Regions from separate parts of the Homo sapiens genome. Here regions 2 and 3 are each linked to region 1. The links come from fine-mapping of genetic effects on gene expression. A gene starts in region 1. Each other region holds a variant in brackets. All regions are shown on one strand. Distances are from middle to middle. Region 1 holds the start of LIMS2 (LIM zinc finger domain containing 2). Region 2 overlaps MYO7B (myosin VIIB). Region 3 holds the start of GPR17 (G protein-coupled receptor 17).

What was found. PIP is the estimated chance that this variant, and not a neighbour inherited with it, causes the effect.
Region 2: its variant is fine-mapped to the expression of LIMS2 in whole blood (TOPMed, PIP above 0.99).
Region 3: its variant is fine-mapped to the expression of LIMS2 in esophagus mucosa (GTEx, PIP 0.97).

Annotation. Positions count from the first base shown.
Region 1 is chr2:127,669,985-127,680,481 of GRCh38, reverse strand. It overlaps LIMS2 (LIM zinc finger domain containing 2), which reads left to right and starts at 4,952. Exons shown (of 10, transcript NM_001161403.3): 1 at 4,952-5,468. The coding sequence starts at 5,458.
Region 2 is chr2:127,630,568-127,641,064 of GRCh38, reverse strand. MYO7B (myosin VIIB) reads right to left here. Exons shown (of 48, transcript NM_001393586.1): 36 at 10,157-10,287; 37 at 9,702-9,859; 38 at 9,312-9,465; 39 at 8,664-8,819; 40 at 7,702-7,807; 41 at 6,776-6,889; 42 at 6,382-6,469; 43 at 5,839-5,945; 44 at 5,158-5,343; 45 at 4,741-4,857; 46 at 4,437-4,520; 47 at 4,152-4,271; 48 at 3,339-3,749. The coding sequence ends at 3,648. LIMS2 (LIM zinc finger domain containing 2) reads left to right here. Exons shown (of 10, transcript NM_001161403.3): 7 at 77-169; 8 at 747-795; 9 at 920-995; 10 at 1,637-2,639. The coding sequence ends at 1,784. It overlaps MYO7B-AS1 (MYO7B antisense RNA 1), which reads left to right and starts at 10,281. Exons shown (of 3, transcript XR_923314.3): 1 at 10,281-10,497. RefSeq lists enhancers at 1,426-2,371, 2,372-3,318, 3,319-4,265, 4,266-5,212, 7,509-7,738 and silencers at 8,009-8,058, 8,159-8,248. The variant G/C (reference allele first, on the strand shown) is at 3,271.
Region 3 is chr2:127,643,367-127,649,882 of GRCh38, reverse strand. All of the region lies in intron 4 of LIMS2 (LIM zinc finger domain containing 2), which reads left to right. It overlaps GPR17 (G protein-coupled receptor 17), which reads right to left and starts at 3,730. Exons shown (of 2, transcript NM_001161417.2): 1 at 3,639-3,730. RefSeq lists enhancers at 1-169, 196-923. The variant A/G (reference allele first, on the strand shown) is at 1,737.

The DNA of each region.
Region 1 (10,497 bases):
TTTTATTTATTTATTATGATTATTTTTAAAAGACAGGAGATTGCTCTGCTGCCCAGGCTAGAGTGCAGTGACACAATCATAGCTCACTGTAACCTCGAAATCCTGGGCTCAAGCGATCCTCCCACCTCAGCCTCATGAAGAGCTAGGCCCACAGGCATGCACCATCGTGCCCAGCTGGTTTTATGCTCCTAGTTTTAAAAAGAGACATTTACTTTTCAATGTGTTGTGAAACCTGTGGGTGCCAGGGGCGGTGTCCTGCTCACTATTCTTCCTTTGGCCCAGGGAGCCGCCCGGGAGGGCTCCGGCTGTGCAGGTGCTTCCCCGCTCCCCCCCGGGGGGTTCTCACAGCCACTTCCCAAGTTAACTTTGGTCTCGCAGGAGGCGGCTGAAGGCTTTGAACTTTGTGTTGATATTCGGCAGGTCTCTGTGTTTTGCCAGTTCCCAGTGCCCTGAAAGGGACAGGCCTTAACCAGATTTGGGGCACAGGCCTTGTAGAGTGGCCGTCTGGGTGGCCTCACATCACACGGGGCCATTCTTGGAACAGGCAGGATGAACAGCCTACCTGTTGGGAAGGCATGCTAGCTCCTGCCCCAGGACCTGGGCTGTGGCAGGAGACCCTGAGGCCTCCTGAGAGCTGCAAGGCCTTCTCCATTCCCTGTGGTCACATGGGGACAGGGCTGTGGCTCTGGATATTGGCGGAGGCTCATTGAGGCACTTTGAGACCCCGGGTTCTCCTCAGCCTCCTACTGCTGATTAGCCACGCTGACCAAGCCCAGCCCCTCTCTTGGCCCTGGGTCCCAGCTCCCACGAGCGTTGGGCCCTGGGCTGTCTCAGGTAGCTGTCCCCTGGAGTAGGGAAGGGAGAAGGTGGGGGGTGGAGAAACTCGGGTACCTGCCCAGCAAAGGGGGTGCCCACCTGCCCTGAACCCCAGAGGGCAGAAGGCTCGTGCCCAGGGAGATGCTGCACCTCCTTCACCTTCTAGGACAGCTGTCATGTCACTCTGTGGCCCAGCCTCAGCCTCAGAGCCCCACTGTCCCCCAGCGAAGACTAAGTGTGTGATTCAAGCCACTCTCTGAATGTCCCTCAGTGATGCCATCCCATAAGACCTGGGAATGGACACTGCATTCTCACCTTCCCTCCCCTTCCCCTCCCCACTTCCAACTGCCGTCTCTTCTCTGCCCCCCCTTTCAGAGCATTCTCCCCCCAGGGGCACTGTGTGCAGCACTCTGGGGAGCACCATCTACACAGACCCCAGGGAGGGGTGCTCCTGGGGGAGGCATTGCAGGGGCCCTGCCTGCCCCTCTGCAGCTGGACTCAGGCCCCTCACTCCAAGGGACCGGCTCTTGACCCAAACCCAGATGCTTCCCTGGCCTCTGCACGCAGCAGTGTGCACACGGGGCAGTGGCGCACCTCCTCCCTGGAGCTCTTTCCCTCCGGGCTTCTGTGGCACCTCACACTCTCCTGCTCTCCCCCTCACTTTCTGCCAGTCCCACCTCTTACCCTTGGAGGGCTCCTGACTGGTACAGACACCCCAGGGTCTCCATGGAGCCCTAGAGTTGAAATTCCATTTGTACCAAGCCTTCTGCATCTACGCTGGAGAATGGACCTCTCTTCCCTGCTCCAGGTTCACAGTGCCCCGCCCACCATCTCCCCTGGGATGCCTGGGGAGGGCCCAATGCAACGTCACCCCTCGCTAACCTGCCCAGACTGTCCCACTGCCACCAATATCTAGGAAAGCAAGGCCACCTGCAAGTCCTCTTGACTCCCACGGCTGTACATTCACACCTGCCACACACACACCTGCCCCACAACCACCACACCTGTGCTGACCACGCCCACGCCGGCCACACACACACATCCAGATTCCCAGCAAATCCTGTTGGTTGCAAAATAGATCCTGTGTTTGATGCCTTCTCAATGTCCCTACTGTCGCACGGCCCAAGGCACCAGTCCCTCCTGGACGCTCACCATAGCCTCTAATCAGACTGTCCCTGAGACCACTCTGTCCCTCACACAGTGGCCACACAGCAGCTAGGGACACTTCCCCCTTTTGCTATGAAAAAGTTCAAGCACTCATCAAAGTTGAAAACCCAGATACCCACCACCTAGATTCTCCCATTAATATCGTCGTAGACTCACGTTACCACCTCTCTGTCCTTCCCTTTACCCATCTCCCCATCTTGAGTTCATTTTTTAGAGGCAGAGTCATGCTATGTTGCCCAAGCTGGTCTTGAATTCCTGGCCTCAAGTGATCCTCCCTCCTCAGCCTCCCCGTAGCTAAGGACTAGCTGGGACTACGGGGATCCACCACATCGGCTCATCTTGATTTAAACAATGTATTTCAAAGTAAGTTGCAGACATCAGTACCTTTCTACCTAAACACTTCAGCATTGTATGTCATTAACTGGAGTTCAGTATCGTTTACGGTATTTTTCTTTTGAGGTAAAATGTACATATAATGAAATGTGCAAATCCTGGCCATATATTCCATGAGTTTTAACAAAGGCATATACACTTGTGTGACCCAAACTCCTACTAAAACATTGCCTGTTACCCCAGAAACTCCCTCACATTCCTTCCTAGTCAACCCCTGTCCTGCCACCTCAGGGCAGTCCGGGGTGTAATAGACCAGCCTGAGGCAGCCACCGTTCTGATTTTTTCTACCACAGACAAATGTTGCCTATTCTAGAACTTGATATAGATGGAAAAGGTGCTCTTTTTTCATTCAGTCAGTATTTCTGAGATTCACCCCTGCTGATGCTAGAGTGTTGTGTCTGTCTTTGCTTAGAACTCTCCATCTAAGGGTGGAATCCTACTTCTGCTGTGGCCCTGCTGCTCTGCCCTGGGCCCTCTCCTTTATTTCCCGTGCCCCTCCACCTGCCACCTCCCCTTTTTCCAGACCCACTGGTCTTCTTTCTGACCTTGCGTACCCCAAGCTCATGTCACCTCAGGGCTGTTGCACTTGCTGTTCTGCCGGAATGCTTTTCCTGCAGATGGCTGAGGGCTGGCTCTTTCCCTTATTCTGGTTTAGCTTGAATGTCACCTGCTCAGAAACTTTCCCTCACCCTTCACTCTAAAGCAGCCACCACCATTGTCCTTTTCTTTGCAGCACTTACCCTTGTCTAAAATCTAGTTTGCGTATTTATTTATTTGTTTATTGCCCATCCTCCACCTCCTGCTAAACTCCATGAGAGCCTGGTCCATGGCTTCTTTCTCCCCCTAGTACTTCCAGTGCCCATGCGGTATAAATACTCTTGAAGGAACAAGTGGATAAGTGTGTGAATGTGTGATTGCCAGCTCTTTCCTGCAACTCTGCCCTCTTGGCTGAACTGTGGGAGGCTGGCCCTGGCTCCTTGAAGCCTCTGCATCTCCAGCAGGGCTAAGCCATGCCCACAACCCCTACCAGCTGTTACTGAGCTTGCCCTGGCCCAGGGATGAGGCACACTGGGAGCTGCATAGGGTCCTGGTTTGGCCACATACAGATCCGTGTGTGCTCAGCTATCATATGCAGGGAGGCTTTTGGGCTAAAAGGCAGGAATGTGGTCTCCTCTGTGGAGAGCATGGGCCTCTGGTGTAATGCTTTCAACTTTTCATCCTCTTTGGTTCCCACAAGACCCTGATATTCAATTAACCGTCCAGCAGTGGATTTCTGGTGCACGGCCCCAGCATGCCTACACCTCTGTGTCAGTAATGGTGGAAAGCCTTTCTCCCTGTATGAGCAGGTGAGCCAAGAAATTATCCATACTTAAGCTTAATCAACCATCAAATTACAGTTAAGCCGAATCAGCTGAGACACGCTCGCAACAAGAAGTAATAACTCGAGACAGTCGGATCACCTGAGGCCAGGAGTTTGCAACCAGCCTGACCAACATGGTGAAACCCATCTCTATCAAAAATACAAAATTAGCTGGGTGTGGTGGCATATGCTTGTAATCCCAGCTACTTGGGAGGCTGAGGCAGGAGAATCGCTTGAACCTGGGAGGCGGAGGTTGCAGTGAGCGGAGATTGCACCATTGCACTCCAGCCTGGGCAATAAGAGCGAAACTCCGTCTCAAAAAAAAAAAAAAAAAAAAAGTAACAACTGCAAAGGCACTCCACAATACCAGCCACTTAGGAACAGGTGTCTTTTCCCAGCTTATTTCTGCAGGTGGAACTGCAGGATACTATCAACTCATCTTTCTGAACGGCACCAGTTTATTTGTGGGTTGCTAATTCACACCGTCATTTCTAGATCATCTTTCTCTGCTGCCAAGACCGGAGTAGCACCACATTTACACATCAGGCCGCCCAGCTCCCAAACCTCAGTGTGACATCTGGGCTGCTTCCAAAGATGAGCTGCACGCCACTGTCCAGCTGGAAATATCTGCCTTTAGGCAGGGCGGGGGTTTTTTGTTTTGTTTGTTTGAAAATTTCCTCCGAAGAGATTCCCTAAATAGTTTATATTACCCCTCCATCTTAACGCCTCTAATGGTAGCTTCTCAGCGCTTCATTATACAGAGGCGTGCCTGGTTCCCCTGGAAACCTGGGAGCTGGGCATTTGGTTTTGTCGTTTAAGAAATATCTTTCGCCAAGTTAGGGCGATGGCCCGCAACGGGGGATGAAATCGGAATTTCCCGGGGAAAGCAGCTTTGCGACTGAAGAGGGACGCCTCTCGGCTTTAGCCTCCCTGGGGGCGGGACTGCGTGGACTCGGCGGTCCCGGGTGCCTCGGGAGGGAGTCAGTGCCCAGATCCGCGGTGGGAACTCCGGGCTAGGAAAGCCCGGGAGGGAGGTGGTCTCAGCATCGCCCCCACGCCTACCATCTCCTGCACGCGTTTGCGGTTGGGGCGGCCCAGGGACTGCAGAGGGGGCGCCGGGCGGGGCGTCCCGGCGGGGCTGTGGGGGTGGGGGTGCTTGTTCGCGTTTATTATAACTTTACTCCCTTTAAAAGGAAAGCTATGCCCGGAATCCAGGAGGTGGCGAGCAGAGCCCGGGTTGGGAAGGACTTGACCCGCGCCCGCCGCTGGCCGCGCTCCGTGTCCCTGGAGCTGGGGCTGTGCGGGAGCGGGGCCCACCCTCTACCTTTACCCCTACTTTTACCCCCACTCCCACCCCCGCCTCACTCTCACCCCTCCAACCCCACCGTCAGCCCCACCTTTAACCCCCACCCCTCCAACCCTACCCGCCGCCACCCCCACCTGCCACCCCCACCCCCACCTATACTCCCGCAACCTCCCACCGTCACCTCCCCAACACCCCCACCACCCTCAGCCTTGACCTCCCCATCCCACCCCGCCCCGCGGGCCCCACCCTGCCACCCCCGCCCACCCCTCTCGCGGGCGGAGCGGCTCTTGGCCTTTTTTGGGCGTCTCCCTGCTCCGCGGCCCGGGCTGGCGGGCGGGCGCTCGGCTGGCGGCTGCAGCAGCAGAGGGAGACCCGCGGCAACCCCGGCAACCCAGGGCTCGGCGTCGCTGCCACCATGACGGGAAGGTAACGGCCCCCACCCACGCCCCCGGGCCGGGGAGGCGGGACTGCGGGACCCCTGGCCGAGGCGCAGCTCGCCCTCGTACAGCCCCGCGGCGCCACGATCCCCGCTCCGCCCTGGCGCGTCGGATTCTCGCAGCTGCCGGGGCGGCAGCGCCCGTCGGGGCAGGGGTCCCCCAGCCCCCGCGCCTCTTCCTCTGGGCGAGCGCCTGCAGCGGAAGGTGGAGCTCCTGCCCACCCGCCCGCTGCAAGATGGGACAGCCGTCTGCTCACAACCGACGCCCAGGGCTGCGGGAGGGGGTCTTGTCCAAGGTCAGACACCAACCACGGGCAAAAGGTTCAAAGGTTGCGTGCCTCCCCCAACTTCCCCGAGCCCGCGCTGTGCGATCCCCGATCCCGGTGAGTGTCATCTCTGGAGCCTTCCGTTTCCTCCTCTGTAAACCTGGGGTGGTAAAAATGTTAAAAATGTTGAAGGGTATGTTGGAACTTGGCCAGAGCTGCGCCCAAGCACCAGCTGTGCAGGGGTTGGTTGGGGACAGGGCGCTCCCCTGGGCCTGGCCCACCCTCTGCTCTCAGGCCCCTCGTTGCCATTTCACAGATGAGGTCACCAGAGGCCACAGAGGCTGAGCCACTCAGGAGGCCAGTCACAGGTCCACCAGTGTCCGGCCAGTGTTTGTCCCTGCAGCCCTTTCTGGAACCTAGCTGGGTACAAGTGCATGACTCAGGACTGGGTGGGAGGGGGCTGTCCCTGAGGCCCTGGTCTCCCCCAGCCAAGTCCTGGCAGGGGGATGCTGTTCTTCAGGATCCCATGACCTGGGGCTCTTGGGGAGCCCCAGCCCGGAGAGTGACCTGTGGCTTTGCTGGGGAAAGGGGCTTGGAGGGTACAGGGCAGTGTCCAGGATTGCAGTCTCAAATCCGAGGCCCACAGGGGAGCTGCCTCTGTGATCGCCATTAAGGCTGTGGCCTGGGGTCTCAGGGCAGCCCAGGAACCAAAAATAGCCTGTAACTTGTCACTTTGTAAGTCCTGCCCTCCAGACACACTTCCCTTTCTTCTCCCCAAGCCTCTCTTCCCAGTTAGCTCCCCTGACTTGGAGTCACCTCTAAGCCTTGGCCCAGGCCCCTCTGCAGTGAGATGGAGGGACTCATCCCCCGGAGAGTGGCATCTGCAGGCCCACTGGCTGCCTGTGGTCACCCCCTAGGGTTCTAGCGGGGCTGCCTCCCATTTTCCTCAGAGCATCCCTGCCAGCTGGCTGGTTCTCACTCTCCTGTTTTCTAGGAAAAGAAAGTGGGGAGAGACAGGAACAGGGTCCGGAGCAGCCCCAGCAGCAGCATTGAGGTGGAGGTGGGTGAGAGGCGGTTCCTTCAGGCACAGGAGGGATGTCGAGGAGAACAGAGCCGTGAAGGGTGCGGGGCTGGAATGGGAGGCCCCGAGGTGCCACTGCTCCCTGGCAAGGGTCCTCTTGCCCCTGAGTCCCTTGGGCCTTTCCCTGGAGACGGAGGCCGTCAGGTGAGCCCGGCCGGAACCGCTGGGAAGGCAGGTGGTGGCGAGCAGGGGTCAGCCTTCCCTTGCTGCTGTGGGCTCCAAGGGCCTGAGAAACTCTTACCCTCAAATGACACAGGGATGACAGTCAGCCTTTGGCAGGCACTGTGTAGGGCGTTCCTCGTCCAGGCAATACTACTCGTCTTAGAGAATAAGGAGAAACCTGGAAACATAAAAGATAACAGAAACATAAAGAGAAGGAAACTGCCACAGTTCCACTCCCAAGAGCCTCCCTTTATGCAGTTCGGTGGCTCCCCGCAGTCCTTTCTCCTGGAGTTTGTTTGACGCAGCTGTGAGCGATCTGAGTGTAATGCACCCGCTCCTTCAAAGGTGACCCTGCTGCCCGCAGTGCTGGTGCCCCACTGGCTTCCCTGCCTTCCATACACAGGGATTGGGCCGGGCCAGTCTGTGAGGAACAGACATCCAACCCGGCCTTCGGAGTGGGCGAGAGTTTTCCTGTCCCAGAAGCAGTGGAGTTTCATTTCCACCGTTTCATGCTGGGTGCCCTTCCCCACGTCCACTGTTCCCATGTGATCCCGGGCAGCTCCTCGTGCCTGGATCCTGGTTCTCTCGGGATCCCCCATGCTGCCCAGAGCCAGGCTGCTTTTGGGAAACACCCTCTCTGCTCGCATACCTTCAGGGCTTCTCCCTGCCAGCTCTCCCTAGGACCTCACCAGGCAAGAGCAGAGGGAGGGCTGTGGGGAGCCACCAAAGTGACCTGGAGTGGCATGTGTGGCCATGCTGTCTGCAGATGAACCCATGGGTGCTGTGTGGAGAAAGGGCTGCTGGGAAGGAGATGGGGAAGGAGACAGAAGGCAGCCACTAGGGAGGCCTCTCCTGGGTGGCTGAGCGGGTGGAGGAGAGGAGGCTGACTCAGGGTTCTGGGAGGTGGAGTGGACAGGACCCAACTGACTGGCTGTGAGGTGGGCCACAGAGGGTGGGGCTCGGGAGGATGCCCCTCCTGTGATGACAGGTGGGGGTGGATGGCATGCTTGGTGTGGTTGTGGAGTGCTTGAAGAGCTGTGGCAAGTCTGAGGGGGAGCCGTGGGAGGCACCTGGGCATGGAGGGGCTGAAGCCCAGGAGTAGCCAGCTGGGCAGGGAGTGAAGGCAGCCCAGAGCATGGGGTGGCACGCCGTGGGAAGAGAGGGGGCTCGGCCTCAGCAGCAACTCAGGGACTTTGCAACTTACAACCACAAGATCTTTGACTATCACAGCTGAAGGGACCTCTGGCATCACCATTGTTCTACAGGGAGGATATTAAGGCCACCTACCTAGGGACCCAGCTGTCCCTGGCATTCCTGGAAATGGAGCCTGGGATGTTGACACCCACGGCCACGTGAGCTCAGTGGCTTGGCTGCATAAAGTGGAGTCCCACCCATGGTGTGACCGTCATGTGTGTCACATGTGAGGCTGTCGTATGCCTGATTGTGTGCTGAGCCCATGCTTAGTACAGCGCAGAGCAGGCTGCTAGATCCCTGCCCTCATATCCACCAATCTTGCCCCTCCTCCGGGTGAGGAGTGTGCCCGGTGGTCCCCTAGGCAGAAGGTGTCGGCCAAGGGGCAGCTGACTGCAGCTAGAGCCCTCAGCACAGCACACGAGGCTGCAGTGGCGTCAGGGGCTTAAGCAAACTGTAAAGTGGGTAACAAGTGATGTGGCTTGTGATGTGGCACCACTGAGCCCTGAGCCCCAGACTGGGCCAGGTGGCACTGCCATGGCCCCTCACCTCCTTCCTTTTTCTTCTACTTCTGGTGCTGACTGGCCCCTTCTAGCCGGCCAGTGGCATAATAGGGATGGAGGGACTGATCTGCAGGGTGTCCAGTCCCGTGGTGTGATACCCCCACCTGGGCTCATTTCAAGCCACCAACATGGCATTAACGCTTTACGGAATTCCTGAATAGTTAACAGTCAGCACTTGTGAACTGGCAAGGGACAGCCCAGGGAGCCACTGGGGAGAGGAGCCCGGGCTTTCTATCCACAGCGGGTTATCCTTCTTCTGTCTGTCCCTATCTGTGCTGTGCCGCATGCAGGCTCTTTTTTTTTTTTTTGAGATGGAGTCTCGCTCTGTCACCCAAGCTGGAGTGCAGTGGCGTGATCTCAGCTCACTGCAACCTCTGCCTCCCAGGTTCAAGCAATTCTCTTGCCTCAGCCTCCCAAGTAGCTGGGACTACAGGTGCATACCACCACAACCGGCTAATTTTTTTTGTATTTTTATTGGAGATGGGGTTTTACCGTGTTGGCCATGGTGGTCTTGATCTTCTGACCTCTTGATCCACCCACCTTGGCCTCCCAAAGTGCTGTGATTACAGGCGTGAACAACCGTGCCCAGCCTGCATGCAGGCTTAACCATCCCTTAGGTCTTCACTTCCAGGTGGGAAAGGGGCCAAGGGAGGCACTGTCACTGTCTTGCTTGTTCTGTTGAGGTGTAGCGTGTACATTTCTGAAGGTGAATATTTACTTAGATGACTTAGCAGGATGACCACCCTAGTGAGATACCTCCATGAGTGAATGCATATGTCTTGCTGAGATGAGGTGACTGAATACACATATGAACATAAAACCTACTGTGTCCTCACCCACGTCCTTGGAGGAATACACGGGAAACTCATGGAGTTGTCTTCAGCCTCCCAGCGAGGAGTCTGGTGGGGGAGCTGGCTCTGGAGGACAGCCTGTTTGTGGCATCTCTGCCTCTGTCCGTCTCTGCCTCTGCCCACTGGGCTGAGGGCACGTGCCCCAGGGCCTTGGGGAGGCAGCCCTGCCTCATAGCTTGGGGCCTCAGTTCCAGCCTCTAAGAAGCCATGTAGTTGCATTCTTCATTACTCACGTGTTTTTTAAAATCTGAGACATAGTTCACATATTATTAAATTCACCACTTTAGATTGTAAAATTCAGTGGTTTTTCGTGCATTCACAAGGCTGTGCAACCATCACCATTAATTCCAGAACATTTTAATCATTCCTAAAAGAAACCTTGTACTCATTTGCAGACAGTCCTCATTTCCCCCTCCTCCCAGCCCTGGCCACCAGTAACCTGCCTTCTGTCTCTACAGATTTGTCTGTTCTGGACATTTCACATAAATGGAGCCATATATTATATAGCCTTTTGTGCCTGGCTTCTTTCATTTATTAACAACATATTTCCAAGATTCATCCGTATATTGTAGCATGAATCAGTACTTCATTCCTTTTTCTGGGTGAATAATATTCCATTGTGCCATAGTTTGTTTCTTCCTTCATCCGTGGTAGACATTTGCATTGTTTCCACTTTTTGGCTACCGTGAATAATACTGCTATGAACATTCCCATACAAGTTTTGGTGTGAACATACATTTTCTCCTTGAATATATACCTAGGACTGGAATTGCTGGCATATGGTAACTCTATGTTAAACTTTTTGAGGAATTATCAAGCTGTTTTCCAAGTAATTGAACAATTTTACATTTATTAAATTTTACACCAGGAATGTATGAAGGTTCCAATTTCCCGACATCCTTGCT
Region 2 (10,497 bases), 39 kb after region 1:
GTCCCCGGGTCACCACTGTCCCTCGGGGTCACCGCTCTAGCCCTGATGCCACCCGGCCCGCCCTTTGTCCTTGCAGCACTTTGTCTGTGCCAAGTGTGAGAAGCCATTCCTGGGGCACCGGCACTATGAGAAGAAGGGCCTGGCCTACTGCGAGACTCACTACAACCAGGTGAGCCCGGTGCAGAACCTTCAGGGATGCGGGTCTGGAGGGGTGGCCAGGAGAGCTGCCGTGAGCAAGGGAGGCTGTGGGCACCCCCTCAGGAGCTCTGCCAGGTGCTGAGCCCAGGCCTGCACCCTCAGCCCTGGCTCCTGGCCTGGGGTCTCGAGACCTGGGCAGCTCTCTTCAGTCTCAGTGTCTTCCTTTGAAGAATGTTCTGGGGCTGGTGTGAGGTCCCGGGCACATGGGGCTGACAGTGCCAGCAACCCCCTCCCTCCCTTGCTCTGGTACAGAAGGCAGGGGGCGCTGGTGGGATGCAGTCACCACCTGGGCCCACCTCCTTGCAGGACAGCAGTGGCCAGAGCAGAGGGGCCTTCTGGGGAGCAACGCCCCAGCCTGTTGTCCTTCCCGGAAGGGTGGTTCTCATGGGTTGCCGTGCCCTCAACCCAGCCTTGCAGCTGGGCCCTGGGAGGCAGGGCCTGGGAGATGCCTGAGAGGGGCCGTGTTGGAGGGCCAGGCTGGCTGCATGATGGCCCTGGGCTGGGGTGTGACTGCCTGCAGCTACTCTGACAGCCTGCTCGGCCCACAGCTCTTCGGGGACGTCTGCTACAACTGCAGCCATGTGATTGAAGGCGATGGTGAGGCCCTGTGTTCCCTCCCCCACCCCACCTGCTCTCCTGGGGCCTGGGTGCTGCAGCTGTGAGCCCAGCCGGGCCTGCGGCAGCCTAGCCAGGCCTGCTGAGTCCCACGCTTCCCTCACAGTGGTGTCGGCCCTCAACAAGGCCTGGTGTGTGAGCTGCTTCTCCTGCTCCACCTGCAACAGCAAGCTCACCCTGAAGTGAGTCCCTGTGATCGTGGGATGGGGCTCAGGGTGGAGGGGGCTCCTGCAGGTCCTTCCTCTCAGCAGCCCTCCTGCACACCAGCTGAGTCTGGCCTGGGGATATGGTGGGGACAAGGGGCAGCCCGGCCTTATACCACCCAGGGAGATGGGGGCAGGTTCAGGGGGTCTAGGGGATCCAGGGACCCCAGGGACCCCAGGCACAGTGAGAGGAGGAGGAACACTCATGCCTCCAACACACCTGCCAGAACCCTGGGCTCTGGGGAGGGAAGGGCATTCCAGCTCAGGGAACAGCATATGCAAAAGCAGCAGTGTCAGCTGCTCATCCAGGAAGCCTCGAGGGGTGTGGGATGGCTGGAGCTGGGAGAGGAGAGATGGCGTCCAGGTTTCCAAGGGCTGTGGGGAGGCATAGAGGGTTCTGGGGTTTCAGAACCTGAGAGAAGCCTCTGGGAGGCAAGGGAAGCCTCAAGGCCCTTCTCATCCCTATGCTCTCTGGCCATCTCACCCTAGGGCCTGGCCTGCTGGCTAGGAGAGGCTGGTGTGGGGAGGCTGGGGGCTGAGGGAAGCCCACTCCACAGTCACCTGTCTGGGGTTAAAGGGGTGGGCGTGGGGCTCTGCTGACAGCTCAGCTTCCTCCTCAGGAACAAGTTTGTGGAGTTCGACATGAAGCCCGTGTGTAAGAGGTGCTACGAGAAGTTCCCGCTGGAGCTGAAGAAGCGGCTGAAGAAGCTGTCGGAGCTGACCTCCCGCAAGGCCCAGCCCAAGGCCACAGACCTCAACTCTGCCTGAAGGCCCTCTTGCGCAGCTGCCTCTCGGCCCCTCCGCCTTCTCCCCTCCTGCTGTCCATGCTTGGCCCCCTCGTCCCCATCCACCTGTGCCCTCCGCATCTTACCCTCCCTTTCTCTTTCCTCATTGCCTTCTCCCTTCCTGTTCCCTCATCTCTGCCTTCCCCATGTCTCTCCTCTCCTTGGCCGTGGCTTCTGTCTGTGAGGAGGCAGGAGCTGGGGAGTGGGAGCCTATGACCCCACGTCTGACAGCCATGTCCACCTGTGCCCACAGCTTCCGCCCACAGACCTCCAGGGACAGGAGCAAATTGCACCACAGCTCCCCGCCTGGCCTGGCCCTCCCCAGGCGGCTCAGTGGCTCATGCTGTCCTGTGAGAGCCCCTGCCCCAGAGCGGCCCCACTAAGCGCATGTGGCTCCTGGGCTACCCACAGCCAGGGCAGCCTGCTGGAGCCACAGGGCCAGGGCCATGCAGATGGAGGCCTCTGGGAGCCACCTCCAATCCCTCACCACTCACTCAACCAGTGGCACAGTGTCCTTGTGCCCACACTGAGCCAGCAAGTCCTGCTGTCCACACCCACAAGCTACCTGGAGGGACAGGACCCACCTCCATCCTTCGGAAGGCCTTCCTGGAATCCCACCTTGGCCTCCGCCCTCGGTTCCGCCCCGCCCCTCTCCCCCCGACCTTGGGGCTTGTGTCGAGCCCTTGGGTGGGGCCAGGAGGAGGTGATGGCGTCAGAGGAGGTGTGGTCAGAGGTGACTTGTTCCCACCTCCAGGGAGGACGCTTCGTCTTCGGCCAGCGCAGACCTGGTGTTTGTTTGTTGGGCTCACGCTTGCACAATGAAGGCTTGTTCACACAACCACAGCAGCCTGCGTGGTTTGTGGCGGGGGTCGGGGGTGGAGGGGATGGCAGCAGCTCTGGACACGCTGCTGCTGGGGCAGTTGAACAGAGGGACAGACATAGACAGGCACGAGTTCAGGGGGCCCTAGCCTCTATCCCAGGCCAGGCTGCCATAAGCAGTTGAAGACTAGCCCTGCCAGGTCCTCACAAGCCTGGGTGGCCAGGTCCACATAAGCTGGCCCAGTGGGCAGAGGAGGAGGTGGGCAGGGACAGGGCATGCCAGCGAGGTGGGGGAATCCAGGCCTCCAAGGTGCTATGTCCAGCTCTGCCCACTGTCTGTCTGGGCATAAGCTGGCCATAGCATGAAGCCAGCAGCCAGAGAGCCGCACCTCCACCCTGGCCTCCTGGGGGTAGCGCAGGCGTATCAATGCCCCGGGTGGGGAGAAGGACAGAAGGTGTGAGGAGGGGCCTGGGAGGAGAACTCTCCCATGAGTGCCCCTCCCCAGTCTGAGAAACAGGAAGGAAGGAAGGGAGGGGGAGGAAGGAAGCAGAAAGGGAGGGATGAAGTCATTTCTGGAGAATGCAGCTGCCCTCCGGGTTCCCTGGGGGAGTCAGTCACACGGCATTTTGGTTTTTCTGCAGCTCTCTGC[G/C]GGCCAGAGCCTCCCAGGCCCCCTGTCCACCTTGTGCCACACCCTGCTCCCTCAGACAGACACACTTCTCCTGCTCCAGGAGTTTTTATTGAACATTCTGGTGGGGTGGGGTGGGGTTGGGAGGTGTCCTGTCAGTCAGTCATCCACCAATAGCCTGGGGGTCCGAGACTCCCGACCCCATTCTGGGCCCGTCTTTTGGCCTCCCTGGGCAGCGCCCAGGACAGAGGGGGCCGCCTGCGGGGCTGAGTGGGCTTTGTATGGGGGGCAGCATGGAAGGCTGCCCGCCAAGGACAGGCCCTGGGTTGAGAGGGCCTGGGAAGGTGCCGCCAGGCTAGAGGTCGGGAAGGGCGCCTGAGCAGACACGCCAGCATCCGCTGCTAGGTGCTGGCCAGGGCTGGGGCCTTGGAGCCCCGCTGCTTGTTCATGGCACTCAGGAGCTGCTGCACATATGAGGTCAGCAGGTCATCCATCTTATAGCCCTGGACAGGGGACGGGGGGGTCAGAGGCTGTGGGTGCAGAGGGCAGGTGGGGGTCCTGGACTCAGGGACCACCTTCTCTTCCTCAGCAACCAGCAGTGCAGGGCATGGAGAAAGGGAAGGCGGGCTCCTGCCATTGGGGCCGTCATTTCTGCTTGCCCTGCTGGAGCTGGGTCTCCCTCCCTCCTTGGAATGGGCCAAGGGCGCAGGGGGTCCCGCCTGGCCTTGCCACCTTGGCTGCTGGTCCTGGGGATGCACCCAGGCCCTCTCCAGATCTGCTGGCCCCGCCTGGGCCCTGTGACTGAGCCCTCTTAGTGAGCCACTTGAAAGGGGTGAGGGTGGGGAACCCAGTCTCCAGCAGCTCTGTCCTATGCATCTTGGATGGGAGAAAGAACCTGAGCTCACCAGGGAGGTCTCGCACAGCAGGCGGCTGCCACGGCCCAGGCTCCCCAGCGCCATGTGGAAGTAGGTGCTGCCGCTGCTCCAGCTGGAGATCTTGGTGAAGGGATAGGTGGTGAGCAGGTCCTGGGGGCAGAGAGGGTGGGTGGGCCGGACGCCTCCAGAGCACGGGCTCTGTGTGTGTTAGGGGACAGGAGAGAGGCAGGACACACCGCAGAGATGACTGCAGCCCCACCTGCACAGGTCCCTGGACCTGGTGGCCCCCAGCCCCTCCGGAGGCCCAGCAGCTACCTTGGTCTTGGGGTGGATGAGCAGAACCCCATGTCGGTTGATGGCGATGAGGATGACGTCCGGGTAGGAAGGCTCCGAGGTTTGCTGGGAGGGAGGGACACGGCGGTCATAGTCCAGCCCGGGAGGCCAGGCTGCACCTCCCAGGAGCTCATCTAGGCCACACGCACATACACACATACACCCACGCCCTCCAGCCTCACGGCCAGCCCCACCCAAGATGTGTGCTGGTTGACGCTGGGCCTGCTGGGGCTGGGCTGAGCGGAGCCTGCTTGGGTAGGAGGCCCTGGCGTGGGGCAAGGTTTACCTTCACCTCGAAGAAGGCGGATCCGAAGGTGGGCCACCGGCAGATCCACTTCAGGAAGGCCACCTTGGCCTCCTCCACTGTCTTGTCCTTATGCTTGTCATAGGCTAGAAGGATGCTCTGGGGGACAGGAGGGCCAGTAAGGACTTGGGTGCCCAGAGGCCCTCCAAAGCCCTGGTGGGGGCAGCACCTGCCTACCCCAGGGCTAGTACGGTGGGGAGGGGAGGGGAGGAATGCAGCATGGGACAGTCTCGGTGCTGTGGATGGCATAGGAAGGCGTGGTGTGTGCAGAGCCAGCCCACCCTCCACACCACCCATGTGCACCCATGTGATCTTGGAGCCCAGGCAGGGCATGGCACTGGTGCAGGGGCCCAGGGAGGAGCAGCAGCACAAGAACCCTTCCCCAGCCCGACCAGGGACCTTTTTCCACTCCTCCGAGGACATCAGGCGTGTGAGGTTCTCAGGCACCAGTTCCCTCAGGATCTTGGGGACACTAGCCAGCTGGGACCGGTCGTTGTTGAACTGGGCCTTGTAGATGAGGCCCGCCAGGTGGATGGCATCCTCCCGCGAACACTTGTGGAATCCGCGCAGGTACTTGGGCAGCTCCTGGGTGATGGACACACTGGGCATGCTGGGTCTCCAGCTGCGGCCCACCCGCCCCCAACCTCTTTCCCGCTCAGATGGTGGGGAACTGGGGCTTAGCCCACTCCATCCAGGACGGACTGAGCAGGGTAGAGAGTTTCAGGCCAGGGGAATGACCCTGAGTCAGGGCAGGGCCCCCTGACATCTGCGTGGAGGTGATGGCCTGCTCCACCCATGTGGTTGGCCCTGCAGGCCACGGCCACTGCTCCATGGGTCACAGGACCCTCTGTCCCACCCTCTCCAAGTCATGCTGCAGGTGCCAGTGCAGTCACTGTCCCCAAACATTGCTGCCCTCTGCTCCTGGTTCCAGAGCCCTCAGGGGCTTGGTCTGCCTACCACATGGGCTGGTACCCAGGGCTGAGGCTGGCCCTGCCCTGGCCTGCTGGCTTCTACAGCCTCAGAACAGGTGTGGGAAGATGGGGGTGGCCCCAGTGCCCACCAGGGCAGCCTGCCCGGTACCTGGTGGTAATGGAGTATGGTGTCTGCATTCACATCCTTCCCTGGAGATATGTTGAGCCACAATTTCCGCATGAAGTACACCTGGTAGGGGAGCGTCACGGGGGCCCCTGGGCGAGGGCCAGCAGTGGGCACCAAGCCTGTCCCAGCAGGTACACCAGCCCTGACCCCCTGCCACCCCCCACACTGCGCCTGCCACCTCCCTGCCTCGAAAGCCCCCACGCTTCTTCCTCCCCAGTCCCCACATTTTCCTTCAATATTAGTGTAGAGGCTGCCTTCTCCAGGAACATTCCTGGACTCGCACTCCCAGCCCATGAGGGTCATGCCCCTCAGCCCTGGGGCATCCTTCATCACTCCAAGGTGCAGCCACCTGTTTCTGCCTGAGCTGGCCCTCACCGCCGGGCCCCAGGGCCTGGTTGTTCCCACAACCCAGGGACACACGGGAACGAATGGATGGATGAATGGGCATGGGCCGCACAGAGGCCGCCAGTGCCCCCTCGACCCACCCAGCCACGCCCTCCCCCAGCTCCACAGAGGCCTCCTCACCTTCTTTCTGGGGCTTGTTCTTCTTCACCCAGTCAGACACCTCCCTCAAGGAATCAAAGAAGAAGTCTCCCTCCTTCTGGCTGATGACCTGGGGAAGGGGAAGGTACAGGGAAGTTGGGTGGCTTCCGGGGACTGTCCTCCTGAGAACCTGCTGGGTTCTGGTCCAGTGGCCGCCTACGGCCTGGGTGCTGCGCTGGAGTCGGCTGTGCGTGGGCTATTGGCGTGTGGAGCTGGCTCTGCTCCAGGACCCCACCTACCTCTGTCCCAGCAGCCCTGGCCGTGCAGCCTGGTCCAGCATGGGTGCCCCTGGTAGGCTGAGGCCCCCACAGGCAGCACCTAGGGCCTCGCTCACTGCCCGTCCGCCCACCGTCTGCCCAGCCCCAGCCCGGCCCACCTTGTCTGAAATCTTGATGAAGAGGCTGCAGCCCTCCCAGGAGGCCAGCTGCAGCCTGGTGGCAATGCTGTCACACACATCCCGCACCCGTGTGTTGGCAACCACCTCCAGCATCTGGACAGAGAGGCAGCTGGTGAGGCCCGGGGCCTGGCTAGGGGCCAGTACAGCCCAGGATGAGCCTTCCTAGCCTGGCACTTTTGCTCCTTCATGAAACTTGGGTTGGATGTGGTCTGCCCTGAGCAGGGCAAGCCTCCCTTCCAGAACCCTGGCCAGAGGTTCATGTTGTTTAGTCCCAGCATTCGCTGTCCTGGGGCCCTGCAGGCCTGGCCTTTTGACTCGCCTTGAGAGCCCAGCAGCCAGACTGTGGGAACTTCCTGTTACCGGGACCCGAATATCAAGGCCAAAAAGACCATTGTGCTGTTGGAGAGGGCGCGAGGCGACACTGCCCACTTTGGCCTCTCAGCCCGCTTGTCTTTGCTGCCCCTGATCAAGGCCTCTGTGTCACGGTGGGGTCCTGGTGGTCTCCTACCTGCCCCCTGGCCCCTTTGTTCCCCCAGCAGCCATGGCAGGCTCTGTGCACAAGGCACACACAGTGGGAATACCTGCTCTCCTGCACCCCAGATGGTCAGAAGCCCCTAGGGGCCCCCAAGTCCTGGGACTCACCCTTGCTGCCCACCCCTCTGTCCTCTCCTGTGTCCTGGGCCTGGATCCCCCAACTCATACCTTGGGACTGGCCTGACTTCCAAAGCACCCAAGGGCAGGTGGGGCCTGCATCCCATGGGGAGAGGGCGGGAGACTGGTTAGGATGGGACAGCCCTAGAAAAGGCTCTCTGGGGTTACCAAGGAGCAGGCTGGGCCAGGAAGGAGGATGCCCCATGGCCTCTGGAGGCCTGAGACTTGCCGTGCAGACCAGAGCAGGGCCTCACCTCACTGGTGTCATTGGGGAAGTAGATCTTGTGGCAGATGCGGGAGACGTTCTGCTCTGCGGCCTCCACCTCCACCTGGTGCGGGGGCTGCTTCCGGGGCCCCGTCCTGAGGGGGACAGCGTGTGCTGCAGGTGCCACCCCCACCCTCATCCTCACCCATGCCCCAGCCCCGATGTGGGCCCTAAACCATGTGCCAGAAACAAAAGAAAACCCCAGTGACCATCACTGGGGTGGTTCCAGCCCCTCGCATGTCCTGGGGGCTGCCCCTGGCTCCACGCGGCCTCAGAGGTAGTGATGGTGCAGCTGTGCCTGAAAGCCTGGGGCACACACGGGGAAGGGCCAGGCCAGGGGCTCCCGGGAAGGCGCCGGCAGGAAAGGCTGGCAGTATTCTTATTCTCGCACAACAGGGGCATCGGGCAGGGGCCAGGGACTCTGGCAGGGCCTCTATGGGGCGCCCACCTCTCTCTGTGACCACGGCTGCCACTGAAATTATGGCCACTCCTACAGTCAACCTGCCCTCCTCACGGCCACAGGAGGCCAAGCCAGAGGAGGCAGGAGGGGTGGGGGAGAGCAAAGACGGCCAAGGAAGAGCTTCACGGCTGTGGGCGGATGAGGGAGGCCGCATGGACTTGGAAGGATGGGCCTCTGACCTCAGCCTTGAGGGCCTGGGCTGGGGCATCCAGGTTTCTCTCTATCCCTCAGGCAGTGCCTCTGTGCCACTGCTGGGCAGTGGTGGGGCAGGGGAGCTGGTGGCTATGACTGAGCCTTCTCTTGACCCTCCTGGGCCTCACCCTCCACCCTCTTCTCTGGCAGCTCGGGGCCCAATCCTGCCTGCCAAGCTGACACTGGCTTCTGGAGAGTCCTCCCAGGACCATGAGCTCCTGGAAGGCTGGCCAGGCCCCACAGCATCCCAGGTCTGCGGGCCCAGGGCCAATGCTGGGGGCTGGAGGCACTGGGCTCACCTCAGGACCTTCTGGATTCGGCGGCTGCAGTCGGGGGCCAGCAGCTTCCCCCTCCGAGTGTCTATAAACTTCTGGGCATGGGGCAGCAGCCCCTTGCTGGGCGGGAAGAGGCCCGTGCACAGCCACAGCAGCTGCCAGCCCCGCTCTTCGCTGTGCCTGAAGGGTAGCACTTGTCAGCCGGGAAAGGCCCCTCAGGGGGCCCTGGCCAGGCAGGCACCTTGGGGAGCAGGGACGGATGTGAGAGCTGCCTGGGGTCTAGAGGGCCCGAGGGGGAGGGCACCTGCCAGGCTGCACCATGCCAGCTGTGCCAGGCTGCCCGATGCCACGGGCTTTCACACCCTCAAGATGGGGGCGGGTGGGCATTGCACCCATTTTGTGGAAGACGACACTGAAGCTCAGAGAGGTCATGGCCTGCCAGGTCACACACAGAGGGTGGGAGTGGGCAGGGCCATCCTCTCCTGCTCTGACCACCCCTAGGACATCAGCAGAGCAGACCAAGGGCCCAACCCTTCCCACTGCTGAGGCAGGAGCCCAGGCAGGGGTTCTGCCGCCACCAGCTGCGGTGTCCTCTCTGAGCCTCGGTCTGGCCTCAGGGGCCGGGATGAGGACTGAGGGTGCCCGCGTGGGCTGGCCGCCGCCCCAGCAGACCTGTTGGAGTTGTGCGTCAGCTGCTTCAGGATCTGGCAGTAGACCTCGTCCTGGAGGGCCGGGTGCTGCAGGGCCAGTGTGAAGATCTGGTCGGTGAGCTCCAGGGTGGGCCAGGCCTGCCGAGAAGGGTAGTCGCCCATGTACCGGAGGATGGGTGTGGCTGTCAAGGAGCACAGTGCTGGGGCAGCCCCACGCTGACACAGACTGGGGATAGACGCTGACCCCGACCCCGGCCCTGCGGTGAGCCATGTGTGGGCTCTGTCCCGCCACTCCAGGTTTCTCAGATCTCCTGGGCTCTCCTGCCCTAGAGCACAGCTGTAGGGCCAGGATGTGCTGGGTGCCTCTGCCCTGGCATTGACGAGGTGCAGGCAGGCTGGTGGGGAAGGATATCGACAAAGATCTGGCAGGCGATGTCCCAGAGGTCGACGTTGGCGTGGACTCGCTTGAGCAGCGGCTGTCGCAGCGGCTCGCAGGAATAGGCCCACAGGTGGCCACGGGCACGGGCCAGGGGCAGCACGGCCATGCTCACCATGTCCTTCTCTGGAGCCCTGTGAGGTTAGAGGCTGGTGTGAGGCCTGCCCTGTGGCCTTCTCTGTCCCACGCTTCTCTGTCCTCTGACACCCCTGAGTGGCTGTGGGAGGGCCAGAGCACCCCACCCTGCCGCAAGCCCCTCCTGACTCCCCTGGCCTGGGAAGGCCAGGCAGGCTCCACATGGGTGGCGTGGCCTCTCTGCAGCTCTCAGTGGGTGCAATGAGGTGGAGCGGGGCTGGGAGCAGGGGGTGCAATGAGGTGAGGTGGGGCTGGGAGGTGGGGGTGCAATGAGGCGGAGCGGGGCTGGGGGGCACCTGAAGAACTCATAGGAGAACTCCTCCAGGGTGTGCAGCTTTTCCTTGGGTGGCTCCTCAGGACGTGGCTCTGTGAACTGCCCCTCCTGAGCCGCCAGCTTCCTCTTCTCTGGTGACATGGCAAGCAAGCTCTGAAGGGGGCACAGGCCTGTGGGTGCCCAGGAGCCACCGCCCATGAGGCCCTTCCTGCAGGCTCCTCCCGGCCTGGCAGCCTCAGTGACTTGGGAGGGGTCAGGCCCAGGGCTGAACAGGCCAGGGCTTACCCACACCCCTGTCACCTGCCGTGTGACCCAGGACCATGACTCTACCTCTTGGTGCCTGTCTCCTTTCCCTTGGGAGGG
Region 3 (6,516 bases), 29 kb after region 1:
TTTTACCCAGCGTCAGAGACACTGGCCAGCGCTGTTGAGGACGGATCTGCAGCCCCAGAGAGGCCTGGAGGCCTCGTGGCTTGCCCACGTTTGAAGGCCAAGTGCAGAGCCCTGTGACAGTCCTGGGTAACAAGTCATGTCCGTCTGGTGAACCCTGGGTCTGGATAGGGTGCTCCCCACCCTCAGCAGAGAAACCCACTCTTGTTTTGATTTTAGTCAACTCAGAAGATTGAAGAAGGAGAGTGAGGGTCCCAAACACTCTGCCTCCCCAACCCAGGCCTGCGAGTGGCAGTGTGGGCAGGCGGTGGGGCCAGAGCAGCCCGCAGCCCGGAACCAGGGCAGGACAGCGCACCTGGCCTGCCTTTGAATTGGGGTCACCAGCGGGCTTCGGCCAGGTGGGTGCTGATGATGGCACAGCTTCTGGGGCTCCTCTGGGCACCTGGCTTCCCAGTATCCACCATCCCCACCCTGCACAGCCAGGCTGAAGCAGAGGCTGGAGAGAGGTTTGCATAAGAGAAGCTGGCATCCTGCCTGTGCCCATTGTGGCAGCAGGAGGGGAGGAGGCACGGGCCACAGCCCTGGCAGGGTCCTCATCCTGGGCGAGCCTGGCTCTGCACCGAACAGCCGGGGTCCTGCCTGCAGCAAATTCACTCTGCACATTTCTCCCTGCCCTTCCTTCCTTCCTTCCTTCCTTCCTTCCTTCCTTCCTTCCTTCCTACCTTCCTCTCTCTCTCACTTCGCTTTGCTTGTTTGCTTGCTTTTCTTTATTTTCCTTTTTTCTTTTCTTTTTTCTTTTTTTCTTTTCTTTTTCCTTCCTTCCTTCCTTTCTTCTTTTCTCTTTCTTTCTTTTTCTTTCTTTCCTCCCTCCCTCCCCTTCCTCCCCTCCCCTCCCTCCCCTCCCCTCCCTCCCCTCCCCCCCTCCCCTCCCCTCCCCTCCCTCTCTTTTTTCTTTTTTTCTTTCTCTTTTTCAAGGTCTCCCTCTGTCACCCAGGCTGGAGTGCAGTGGTGCAATCAGCTCACTGCAGCCTCAACCTCCAGGGCTCAAGTGATCCTCCCACCTCAACCTCCTGAATAGCTGGGACTACAGGCGCACACCACCACACCCGGCTAATTTTTGTATTTTTTGGTAGAGACGGTTTTGCCATGTTGCCCAGGCTGGTCTCAAACTCCTGGGCTCAAGTGATCCTCTCTCCTTGGCCTCCCAAAGTGCTCCTTGGCCTCCCAAAGTGCTGGGATTACAGGCATGAGTCACTGCGCCCAGCCCCTCTCCTCTTACTGATTCCACAGGGCTGTCTCAGGATGCTGGTGGCACGGGGCAGAGAGGGCATGGTGACTGTTCATGGACACAGCAGCCCCTCGAGGAGGAGGCTGGAGCCATCCTCATATGGAGGAGAAGCAGGCATGGTGGTGGCCCTAGCCCTAGGGAAGGGTGGGCCGCACCCTTCCTTCAGGAGAGCGAGTGGCCAGCTGCTGTGGCCCTCACATGGAGGGTGAGGGCTGGCCCGAGCACCTGGCCATCAATGTCCTCAAGCAAAGGGGAGGGCAACTACCTAATAATATTACCTTTTAGCTATTTCTCTAGGCAGGTTCCCCTACCTGAAAAGATTGCCCCCGGCTTCAGAGTGTTTCAAGATGCCTGAAGTTCTAACACCAGAGATGGTTTCCTGCTGCTTCCAGGAACAGGGTCTGTTCTTAGTCCAATGTGGAGTTCCTCATGGGGACCCCATTCCCCAGGA[A/G]TCCAGGTTCCACAGTACTCTGACTTGGTCTGGCTGGTCTCGGCTGGCACTTTCCCTAGGACTGCTAAAACCACGGTGAGGGCGGAGAGCTGAGGGCCGAAGAAGGCGGGGTGAGTGATGCTTGGGAGAGGGAGACAGGCTTGGCTGAAGCCCTGGGGAAGGGCTGAGGGCTGTGAAGGGGGCTGTGGAGGAGAGGTAAAAGGAGGGAGGAACACAGCCCTTGACAGGGCCTGTGAGGCAGGGGAGAACAGGGAGCAGGTACCGGTGGGACGGTGGCAGGGGAGGGGGGCCCATGACTTTGAGGGTGTCGTGTTGCATGTGCTGGGGGTGAGGACCCGGAGACTGGAGGAACAGGGCTCCAGGGCAGACGCATGGGCAAGCAGAGAGGACAGCCCATGGTAGATGGGAGGGGCACACAGGTGTGCTGTTTTCAGGTTGGCAGGAGAGGAGGAAGGTGTGTGCGGGGAGGCCCTGGAGACTGGAAGAGGAGAGGGGGCCCAGTGAGTGAGGGGCCCTTGTTAGAACCTGGGGGTGGGAAGGGGCCAAGGTGGGTGCCCTCCACCCCAGGCTGTCCCTCAGGCCTGTGCTGTGCCCCACAGTGCAGGCATCACCTGGCCCCACGAGAGAGCAGCTCATAGGTACGACTGACCACTCTGCCTGGCATGGTGGGGGCCTGCCTGTGCTGGCTCAAACCAGTTTTAGCCCCATGTTGCAGGTTAGGGAGTCAAGGCTGAGTGTCTGCTAACTTGTCTTAGGTCACTTGACCAGGGGACATTGGCCCTGGAGCTGGAAGTGAGACCGGGGAAACGGTCTCACTCCCTGGAAGACCGCCAGGGTGGGGAGTGTGACTCAGTCTCAGAGTTTGCCATGGAGTTGTCTCCCAGGCTCAGCACCCCCTCCTGGCCCTGGGGCCACTCCCTCATTTTAGGGGCCCATGTATGAAATGAGAATGTGCAGCCCCTTGCTCAAAAAGGAAGAGTTTCAGGACAGTGACGGCAGAGTGTTACTGGGCTCAGGGCCCTGAGTGACGGCAGGGGTGGCATATCTCATGGCACCAGGTGGGCCTGTGGTGCCTCCTGCCTCCAGCCCGGGGGCCTCAGCCTGGGCACTGCCCTCCACTTCCTGCCCGGGCCGAAGGGCGTGCCCCTCGCTCTCTCTGGGACTGAGACTCCATTTTAAACAGCTTTCTGGTTGGTTTCAGGTTTGCTGAGGTTTCTTCTCCCTTTCTGTCCCCCGTTTGAGGAGTTCTGATACTGATTGTTGCAGTTTGGTCTGAGATGGGCCCCGCTTCACTCTCTGTTGCCCTTTAGAAACACAAACTTCAGTCTAGACTCGCTGGTTCCTCACGACTCACTGGTCAGACGGCCACCGAGCCGGTGTCCGTAAGAGGAAAGGGCGTGGCATGGGCCGGGGCCTGGGCAGTGTTGGGTCCCGTGGCTGTGGGTGAGTCGAGCATCTAGGACAGGTCATAGGCCTCTGTGGAGGTGGCAGGTGGGCATGTGTGGCCTCGGGGAGGGCCTGTGGTGGCAGCGCCATGGCCAGGTGGTGGCAGTTTCCTTTGCATTAGCGCCACTCCATCCCTGGCCCGAGCCCTCTCCCAGGCATCTGGCTCCTCTATGGGTCAAGGCTGCCTAATGGTTAGGGGCAGCGGTGCTGTCATTGCAGCCTGGACTGCCGGCAAGCCACTTCCCCTCTGCAAGCCCCCATCAGAGGGACGAAACACCGCTTTGTGGGCTGCTGTGAATTCAGACTGTGGTCAGCCTTCGATGCACAGGTCAGACCATCACCAAAGAGATGGGACGAGACAGGCTGCTGCCTGTCTCCCTGGGCAGGGCTCCCCGCTGAGTGTTTCCTCTGCTTAGCCCTGGGCTCCCAGTCCACCCCACCCAGCCTGCCCCTTACCTCTAGCTGCTGGTCCGGGAGGAAGGGACAGGGGTCTGCGGGGCAGCAGGTGATCTCCGCCCGTGGGTGTCGGTGGTGGCAGGGGGCTCCTTGCCGCTGTGGGTGGAACGCTGGCTATTTAAGGAGAGGAAGGGAGACCACAGCCCCTCTGGCCCTGAAAGGCTGCTTCATTCCTGAGGGGTCCCTTGTTGTGTCGGGCTGCTCCTCTGGCTGCTGCTGCTGCTGCCACCGGAGCGTGAATATTCTAGTGTGTCCCTAGCCCATGCCCCCCGCCCCCAGCTTGGCCACATAGTCTGAGTGTGTGACTGTCTCAGAGACTCAGAGCAGGCGGGGGCTGGGTGGGGGGCTTGGGCTGGAGCTGAGGGACACAACAGGACGTTTCAGAAGGGGATGATTTCCTACTGATGGGGGGCAGGGAGGGGCCGGCTGTCATGGCAACAGGCGGCGCTCCCAGGCCTGCGCCCGCAGACGGCGGAGGGGGCCTGTGAACGGAGGGTGGGAGGCCGAGGAGTCTTGCTCACGGAGTGAGAGGCGACTCTTTGAGGACACTTGCTGTAGGGTCCTTGTGTCCTGCCCTGTATAATGAGGCCCCATTTGGGCACACAGAATAAATCATGGCCTTTATCTGGAGCGAGGAACAGCTGCAGGAGCCTCATAATGGGGCGCTGTCCTGTCCGTGAGGATGCGGCTCAGCTCAGAGGCCGGGTGCTCGCCGGTGCAGCTCCCCTTCTGCACGGAAGCCCATGAATCTGACCGCTGGCCTGGGGCTCCTCCCTGGGGTGGCTCCGGGCTGGGGTGCCTTTGAATGCTGCCGGCGGCCGCCTCTGAGACTGAGTGAACAAAGTTCATTTCTCTCTGTCTTTCTGAAAATGATACATCCAGCAACATGGGAAACCAAATCACCCTTCCTGGTTTCAAAAGACTTTACATTTTGTTGTTTAAACATTGAAAACTGTATGTATGTGGCTAGCATTTAAGGGGCAGTGTCTTAAATTTGTCTCTTCACATCACCCTGTGCAGCTGGGATTATTGCCCCATTTTACAGACAAGGAAACTGAGGCTCAGGCAAATGAAGAAACTCACCCATCAACAAACAGTAGGAAGCAACAGAGCCAGGATTTGAACCCAAGCACATGTCACTCCAGAACTTAGGCTCCGTGTGTGTGTGTGTTTTGTTTTTCTGCTGCATTTTGAATTTAGAATTCTTAGATTTGATCCTAATTCAACCTGAAAAAGAATTCTGAAGGCCACCTTTAGATCTGATGCTGTGATCTGGTCTGTTGAGAAGCTGTTTCCCATCTGGACTTCCTTCAAGAGAGATGGGCTTCCCAGTTTGTCTGGCCTGAGAGCCAGCTGGGTGTGAGGTGTCTGAGCCGGGGCGCAGGTCTCTTTCCTGTTGTGCCCGCAGGCGGCTGTCTGGAAGAACTGGCCCAGGCTGGTTGGAAAGGTGGTGGCTTGAAGCTAACCACCCTGAGCAGGGCATTTCTGGGCTCACAGACCTTCTGTTATTGGGGTGATCACTGTCGATGGCTTCAAGGGCATTGACCGTGGTGATGGAGTTTTGAGGCGTTGAGCTGATTCCTGCATCTTTGAGACAGAAATAATTCCTCGTGGGTTGAGTGTTGTCCTGACGCTCAGGAGGAGTCACCAGAATGTGGAGTGGGGTCATGGGGCCTACATGCTGAGTCTGGGACAGAGGCACCGCAGGGGGCATGGGCTGGCCGCCATAGGCGCCAGGTGGGGCAGCTCAGCCCCAGACCTGCTGAGGAGGTGGCCTGGGGTTGGGGCTGGGGCACAGGTGTCTGGGCAAGGGTGGGCTTCAGGGATTGTGGTGATGAAGACTGAAGCCACAGGCCACAACTGCTTCCCGTCGCTGGGGTGTAAGAGCCAGGGCTCTGGCCAGTAGTCGAGGGGAGATGATGCCCACCGAGGCTCCCTTCCTCTCTTGTAGAGTCATTCATTCACCGAGGCATTCGGTCAGCTGACCCTGAGCTGTTGCCCCCTGCTGGGCACATAGGGTCTTGGGGAGGCACAGAGAGCCAGTCGGCAGCTTAGCCAGTGACTGCTGGGCCTTTGTTTGGGCCCCTTGCCCTGCACACAGCTGATGATGAGACACCCCAGGGCAGATGGAGCACAGTGCTGTGCAGGATGGAGTCCAGACACCCAGCAGTAGCAGGTCCTGGGGTCCAGGGAGGGATGCTGAATGGGTGGCCCTGGCATCTGGGGTCTGCCCACCATAACCTGGGTGGGGATCTTGGGTCTGCGATTGGATCTCTTCCGTATCCTCCCTGACCAGCCTGTCAGAGGGGCCAACACTGGGCGTCGGGCAGCCGTGGAGGCTCGTGAGGAGTGGAGAGGGCCCCTGGGGCTGGGGGGCCTGGGAAGGGAGGCCTGGATGCAGCAGGAGCACCAGAGAGAGATTCGGGTGGCAGGTGGAGACGGGGGCCAGGGAGGTTGGATTGGGGCCTTTGTGTATCTTTGCCTGGGGACTCTGAATCTAGATTCCTGCCACCTTTGAGGTCCAAGGAAACAGAAACCATGTTGATTTGTCTCTCCGTTGAGAACACAGCTGTCGTCCAACACAGCGAGTAGCATCAGAAATTATTCTGAGGTCTTCACAAAAAGACTCTGTAGTGACAGTTCCTGGGTTTGGGGGCCTCCATCTGACATAGCAGTGCTTGTCTTTGGAGACAGAAATCGCCTGTACGTGTTTGGGCCCTTCTTCATCTGGCAAACCCCGAAGGAAGGGGGTGAGTGGGCCTCCCGGGACACTCACTGGCCACTCTGCTGGGCACAGTGACACTCATTATAACTCGTGTGTGTTAAATACATTGGGAAAATAATGCTTTCAGCAGATATCAATTAAATGTCTACTGTA